2 linked regions of the Homo sapiens genome follow. The main gene of each other region encodes a partner of the protein of the gene in region 2 in a complex. Each region holds a gene or a part of one and is shown on either strand. Other genes may lie near its edges. A codon is read from its position in the direction of its gene.

Region 1 (3,751 bases), on a different chromosome or scaffold from region 2:
GCAATATCTCCATTTAACCAATCAGGTCTTAATGAACTACTCTTCTTTTCCTCTAATGAATGGACGCCTTCCTAAAGGTATGGTATACCTCCCAAACTTAGTAAGGAGAGTATACAGAATACCACTTGTGTTCTCAAATGATACAGGATCATTGTTCATGTATGGTGACTTCAGGAGCTTTTTATTTTTTTTTGAAATAGGGTCTCACTCTGTCGCCCAGGCTAGAGGACACTGGCATGATCACAGCTCACTGTAGCCTCAACCTCCCTGGGCTCAGGTGATCCTCCAACCTCAGCCTCCTCAGTAACTGGGACCACAGGCACACACCACTAATTTTTGTATTTTTTTGGTAGATATAGGGTTTCACCATATTGCCCTGGCTGGTCTTGAACTCCAGAGCTCAAGTGATCCGCCTGCCTTGGCCTCCCAAAGGCTGTCAGCCACTGCACCTGGCTGACGTCAGGAGCTATTAAGGTAACTAGGAACTATTGGCACTATAGATCAAATGGTTCCAGATTTGTTATGGCATGTACCCCAAGGCTTTCTTCTATAAGAAGTGTCTTCTTGGCTGAGTGCAATGGCTCACTCCTGTAATCTCAACACTTTGGCAGGGTTAGGTGGGAGGATCGCTTGAGCCCAAGAGTTTGAGGCTACAGTGAGCTATGATCACACTAATGCACTCCAGCCTGGCTGACAGAGTGAGATCCTGTTCAAGCGATTCTCCTGCCTCAGCCTCCTCGGTAGCTGGGATGACAGGTGTGCACCATCACACCCGGCTGATTTTTTATTTTTAGTAGAGACGGGGTTTCACCATGTTGGACAGGCTCGTCTTGAACTCATGACTTCAGGTAATCCAACCACCTCGGCCTCCCAAAGTGCTGGGATTACAGGCGTGAGCCACCGTGCCCGGCCTTTATTTGTATTTTTAGTACAGACAGGGTTTCAATATACTGACCAGCTGGGCTCGAACTCCTGACCCCATGTCATCCGCCCACCTTGGCCTCCCAAAGTGCTGGGATTACAGGTGTGATCCACCGCACCCGGCCTGGGAGTCCCTTCTATATCCCTAAAACAAATTCCTCTTTTCACTTTTGCTAGAATGTACAATTTTCTGTTCTTTATAATGAAAAAAATCCAGAGAAGCCAAGTAAATATAGTATGGAGTAAAAGTGAAAGCAAGGTTGGTCTACAGCTTGGGAAAAATGTATGACACTGGAACCTCATGCTGTTTTACTATCAGGCCCAAATGCTATGCTGTTTCCCCATTCATGTCACCCAGTGGATCAAGGCTACCTCAACCACTGGCCTTCTCTTGTGTGATAACTGAGTTACGTACCTCCAGGAAGTCAAAGAGGAGGGTGGCTGTCACATCTGACAAGGGCTCCATGTTTAAGATCTGTGCCAACCAGCGCCATCCATGATTTAAGCCATGAGGGTGAATCTGGGAGTAGAGAAGCTTGGTTATCATTGATCTCATTTTGTTTAGAAATCTAAACTCCCAGTGTATCATCCAGCCATTACCAAGTGGAAATGAACCCCAGATCATCCAGCCCTAGCACCTGCCACAGGGCAGAAATAACACAAACTAAACAAATTCTGTTTTTCTTTTATTTTTTTGAGACAGGGTCTCACTTTGTTGTCCAGGTTGGAGTGCTATAGTGCGATCATGGATCACTGCAGCCTTCACCTCCTGGGCTCAAGTGATTCTTCCACTTCAGTCTCCCAAGTAGCTGGGACTACAGGCATGCACATGCCACCGTGCTCAGCTAATTTTTTTGTATTTTATTTAGAGACATGGTTTCACCTTGTTGCCCAGGCTGGTCTCAAACTCCTGGAGTCAAATGACCCACCTGTCTCGGCTTCCTAAAGGGCTGGGATTACAGGCATGAATCTACCTCGCCCAGCCTTCTGTATTTAAATGTTTCAGTACATTGGTTCCCACACATTCTTTTTTTTTTTTTTTTTTTTTTTTTGAGGGAGAGTTTTGCTCTTGTTGCCCAGGCTGGAGTGCAATGGCGTGATCTCGGCTCATTGCCACCTCTGCCTCCTGGGTTAAAGCGATTCTCGTGCCTCAGCCTCCCAAGTAGCTGGAATTACAGGTGCCCACCACCATGCCCAGCTAATTTTTGTATTTTTAGTAGAGACGGGGTTTCACCATGTTGGCCAGGCTGGTCTTGAACTCCTGACCTTAGGTGATCCACCCACCTCAGCCTCCCAAAGTGCTGGGATATCAGGCCTGAAGCTACCTCGCCTTCTATTTTTTAATGTTTCAATACATTGGTTCCCACACATTCTTTATAGGCTCCCTTCAATATGCATGTGTCAGCTTCAGTTTCAGGCATTCCATAGGGTAACAATTAGCCTTATTGACATTTTATTTATTATTCTTGGTACCTTTAGCACAGAACCTGGGACACAGCAGGCATACAATAAAAACTTGGATTTAATCAACTTCTATTTTTTCTCTTTAGGTCTCCGTAACTATTAATTTCTCTGTCCTTCTAATCTGTATTCCCTGAGAAATTAATTGGGCTGGCAAGTCAAAGCCCTGAACCCCAGCTGCAGCTTTCTGAGCTTGTTCTGTCCATCTGTGAAGTAAGGTATGTGATCTAGATGGCTTCTAAGGTCTCAACTAGTTCTAAGATGACAATTTCTTGCTCATTCCTCTTGTAAGAAAATCTTCTAACCTTAATGACTGATTTATAACAGACTCTCCTCTGGTAGACTCTGTTACAAAACCAGCTCTTTAAAGTACCAGGTGATCCAAGAAAGTTCCCTAATAATCAACATTCAGTCCTCTACATAATACCCATGAAACTGCCATATAGTTTATCCTTTAACTAGACTGGCTCTCTGAAAGAAGGCCAACATTTCCTGTGGGAGGAATACACATGGACTGTGGTCTAACCTCTCATTATTGACAGTAAGCCTCTTTTACCTACCTCCTGTCGGTTTCCATATGGCCACCGGAGCTGGATGATAGCAGCGTAGAGACGGATCATCCCTGACATGCGTTTTAGAAAGTTGTCTTGCTGCTCCACTTTGGAATCCTTTACTTGGTAACCAAGCATCCTATACGGGAAGAAAAAATTTGGCCGGGTGTGGTGGCTCACGCTTGTAATCCCAGCACTTTGGGAGGCCAAGGTGGGCAGATCACTTGAGGCCAGGAGTTCAAGACTAGCCTGGCCAATGTGGTGAAACCCCATCTCTACTAAAAATACAAAAATTAACTGGGTATGGTGGTGCATGCCTGTTTGTCCCAGCTAATTGGGAGGCTGAGGCATGAGAATTGCTTGAACCTGGGAGGTGGAGGTTGCAGTGAGTCAAGATTGCATCACTGCACTCCAGCCTGGGTAACAGTAAGACTGTGTCTCAAAAAAAAGAAATAAGAAAAAATTCACTGGGACAAGGCCAAAATAAGGGTGACAAATTAGAGATAAATTGCTTTTTTTTGGGAAACAGAGTCTCTGTCACCCAGGCTGGAGTACAGTGGTATGATCAAGGCTCACTGCAAACTTCACCACCCAGGTTCAAGTGATCCTCCCGCCTCAGCCTCCTGAGTAGCTAGGACCACAGGCACATGCCACCATAGCCGGCTAATTTTTTTTTTTGAGATGGAATTTCCATCTTGTCGCCCAGGCTAGAAAGCAATAGCACGATCTCAGGCAATCTCCGCCTCTCGGGTTCAAGCGATTCTTCTGCCTCTGCCTCCCGAGTAGCTGTGATTAAGGCACCTGCCACCACACCTGGC
Region 2 (3,751 bases):
AAAATGGCAAAACCCTGTCTCTACTAAAAATACAAAAATTATCAAGGGCATGGTGGCGGGCACCCGTAATCCCAGCTACTCGGGAGACTGAGGCATAAGAATCGCTTGAGCCTGGGAGGCGGAGGTCGCAGTGAGCCGCCTGACTGAGAGAGCAAGACTCCGTCTCAAAATAAAATAAAAAAATAAAGGTCAGATGAATAGCCCTAAAGGAGGGGAAGGAAGGGAGACAGCACCGAATTATTAACCCGATCTTTAAAAATCTTGTGTTGTTCTAAGGTTTCATGTCTAATCTCTCCTTTCCTTGAAGATAAAAAGCTTTGACAATGATCTAGGCCCAGGGACTAGATCAACGTGGCCCCCGCATCTCCTTTCCTCACCTCCCGGATAGCCCTTAACTGGGCGTCCCACATTCCCAATTTCACCCCAAATTTATGAGCAGGTGCATTTTTGCGGTATGGCTCTATAGGTTTTATTAGATTTTCTTTTTTTCTTTTCTTTCTTTCTTTTTTTTTTTTTGATAGTCTCGCTCTGTCGCCCAGGCTGGAGTGCAGTGGCACGATCTCGGCCCACTGCAACCTCCACCTCCCGGGTTCAAGCGATTCTCCTGTCTCAGCCTCATGAGTAGCTGGGATTACAGGCGCGCGCCACCACGCCCGGCTATTTTTTTTTTTTTTTTTTTTTTTGGTATTTTTAGTAAAGACGGTGTTTCACTATGTTGGTCAGGCTGGTCTCAAACTCCTGACCTCGTGATCCGCCCGCCTCGGCCTCCCAAAGTGCTGGGATTACAGGCGTGAGCCACCGCCCGGCCGGTTTTATTAGATTTTTTCAAAGAAGTCCACGACTTCTCCAAAATGAAGTCCTGATTCTGACCCAAGCTGCTAGCCTCACCCTCGAAAAAACAACTTAGTAAAAATTATATTCAATTCCGGCATTTACCTACAAGGTAGTTTCGATAGGTACTTCCGATTTAAAAACTCAGTTTCGCACAAGCATCCAGGCCCAAACCCAGGTCCTCAGAAGCTCAATAAAAACGGACCACATGAATAATATGTAGATAAAACCCTCGGTTTAAAAACGTTGTGCAGGGCCCAGTAGGGCCGGCAAGGCCGCGACGCGGGCACGTTGGGGTCACCAGCAGCGGGAAACACGCGGGACGCCCGGTCCCCGCCGGCGGACCCTTCCCGGCTCGGTTACCGCGGAGGATTCAGAGGAGAGTCACCTGAAGGCTGCTGCTGCGGTTGCTGCCGTCCTCCTCCTGCACCCCTAGCACCGGGATGTTCGTTCCAGCACCGATCTCCAAAGCGGCACCGGCCTTGAAGGAAGAATTGACAAATGGCCATTGCGACGGCGTCGCTGACGGAGGGCGTCTTCAGTCTGCACCGTTCGATGCCTGTTACTGGGCAGAGAGCCCTAAGGCAACCTCGGCGCCCGGCCGGGCTACTGTGACGTCATCTTCTCGCGCCTGGGAAGGCCTTTTTCCGCCTCTCACCCGGCAGTGCCATGAGACGCATGGACTTGAGCCAATAGGACTTGAGAAGAGCGGACCGCTCTGACGCTTTGAGTGTGTCCTGGGAAGGAGGGATGCTTGAACGGTTACGTGAAGACCGGAGGCGCGTTTGACCCCGGTGCAGGGCCTCGGACTACAGGAAGGCTGGAGGTCCAAAATGAGAGGAAAGCGGAGCAAGCAAACGCAGAACTTCAGCAAGGCCCTCAGAGGAGAATTAGCTATGATTTGAGAGACTGAGTCGTTCTTGCTGAGACGGTAAAACTTAGCTTGGGCTGAGAAAGTAACAAACTGCCTAGCCTTTCATCTGGATGGATAACAGAGTCAAATAAAGCCAGACGACGTTAAGAGGAAACAATGTTTCTTTTAGGACATGCTGCAACGGAAAAGTATTACCACTTAAGTACATTCTTACTACACACTGAGAAACCTTGTTATTTCTTCTTTTTTTTTTTTTTTTTTGAGACGGAGTCTCGCTCTGTCGCCCAGGCTGGAGTACAGTGGCAGAGCTTGGAGGCAAGCTCTGCCTCCAAGGTTCATGCCGTTCTCGTGCCTCAGCCTCCCGAGTAGCTGGGACTACAGGTGCCCGCCACCACGCCCGGCTAATTTTTTTGTATTTTTAGTAGACACGGTTTCACCGTGTTAGCCAGGATGGTCTCTATTTTCTGACCTCGTGATCCGCCCGCGTCCGCCTCCCAAAGTGCTGCGATTACAGGTGTGAGCCACCGCGTCTGGCCGAAACCTTGTTCTTTCAAGTCCACATAAACGTTGCTATTTGAAATTATATCAGAACGAGTGAAAAGTCCCATCCTTGCCTGGAGGATCTAAGTCTCTTTGACGCAGAGAAGCAGCCTCAATTTCTATCCAGGTGTAGAGCTTCAGATAAACGGTTCTGAAAACATTCTGTATTTTCTTAACTTTGCAGTTTCCAAGGAAACATGCCCTACATTCAATTCTCGTCCAGACCTGATGTTAATGCCTTTACACACAGCTATGCTTTGAGATTTCATTTAAATTTCACCTAAACTTCACTCTCCCCGCCAAAACATACAATAACTACCTTTTATTTTGTACGGTGAGACACACCACAGCTCCTCTGGTGTGCAGTCTTCTTGATTGCAATAAGTCAATAGATCTGACTTTGTTGGATTACAGGTTTGTGCTGGTGGTTTTAGGATTATTGAGCTGGGAGTGAGCCATCATTCTTGCTCATGTAATTTGTTTGGATTTTGAAGACAGCAGAATCTACAGGACGGGAACTACTTGTCCAAACTAGTTTTTTATTTTCTTTAATCAATGCAATTCATTTATTTTGAAACAAATTTATGGAAAAGTTACAAATAACAGTACAAAGAACTTTTTTCCTGAACCATTTGAGACTATGTTGCAGACCTAATGCCCCATGATCCAAATACTTATTGTATATTTTCTACAAACAAACCAGGGCATTCTACATAACCACAACACAGCCAACAAAATTAGGACATTGATACTGATGCACTACTACTCTCTAATCCTTAGACTCCATTTATGTTTTGCCAAATGTCCCAATATTGTCCTTTAGAGGAAAAGGGTTCAGTTCGGAATCATTGTTGCTTAGTCATATTTCTTGTGTCTCCTTCAATTTGGAAGATTTTTTGTTTTTCCTTTTCATGACCTTGACACTATTAAAGACTACAGGCTGCTTATACTGTAGAGGTTCCTTAGTGCAGGTCTGTTTGATGTTTTCTCTTGATTAGATTCAGATTATGCATCTTTGTCAGGATTATCACAGAAGTGATGCTGCGGTTTTCACATTGCAGGTTGTGCACAATTTCAATTTGTCCTGTTACCTGTAATGCTCAATGGATTACTTGCTTAAGGTGGTGTCTGCCAAGCTGCTCTACCATAAAGTTATTCTTTTCCTTTTTGTTATTAATAAGAATTTTGTGGGGAGGTACTTTGAAAGTATATAAAAATCTGATTGTTCATCCAACTTTTAGCTCATTCACTTATTTATTTATATCAGTATGGACTCATGATTTCCAATGTTATTCAATGGGTTATAATCCATTACTATCATTATTTATTTTGATGCTCAGATCATCTCCAATTTGGCCAATGGGACCCCCTTTAAGCTCCTTTACACATTCGAAAAAGGAGAAAAAAAAATTCCCCATGATTACTTGAGCACTTTTTTACTTTCTGGTGCAGAGATGTTCCAGGCTCATTTTTACATTCTCTACTCCAGTCCTGAAATCAGTTATT

The links. The genes of interacting proteins can lie anywhere in the genome.
Region 1: the proteins of NUP42 (region 2) and GLE1 are in contact, whole or in part, in a crystal structure (PDB 6B4I), measured with the Homo sapiens proteins. Residues at the interface, in NP_001357375.1 of Homo sapiens: Asp185, Asn186, Val187, Leu188, Phe189, Gln202, Phe203, Gln204, Ser205, Lys206, Lys207, Phe208, Leu210, Gly211, Lys212, Ile213, Pro214, Leu215, Lys216, Pro217, Pro218, Leu222, Leu223, Asn224, Val225; in NP_001003722.1 of Homo sapiens: Ile385, Ile593 (codon at 1,441), Leu598 (codon at 1,426), Asn599 (codon at 1,423), Trp602 (codon at 1,414), Arg603 (codon at 1,411), Ala606 (codon at 1,402), Gln607 (codon at 1,399), Leu609 (codon at 1,393), Asn610 (codon at 1,390), Gln636, Tyr637, Gln638, Val639, Gln640, Lys643, Met644, Ile646, Leu647, Glu650, Asp651, Tyr652.

The regions. Positions count from the first base shown.
Region 1 is NC_000009.12:128,535,676-128,539,426, reverse strand, and holds part of GLE1 (mRNA export factor GLE1), read right to left. Parts: intron 3,073-3,751; coding exon 2,943-3,072; intron 2,601-2,942; exon of another isoform or gene 2,472-2,600; intron 1,442-2,471; coding exon 1,337-1,441; intron 1-1,336. UniProt on the Homo sapiens protein: Required for the export of mRNAs containing poly(A) tails from the nucleus into the cytoplasm. May be involved in the terminal step of the mRNA transport through the nuclear pore complex (NPC).
Region 2 is NC_000007.14:23,179,675-23,183,425, reverse strand, and holds the start of NUP42 (nucleoporin NUP42), read right to left. Parts: upstream 1,379-3,751; 5' UTR 1,341-1,378; coding exon 1,220-1,340; intron 1-1,219.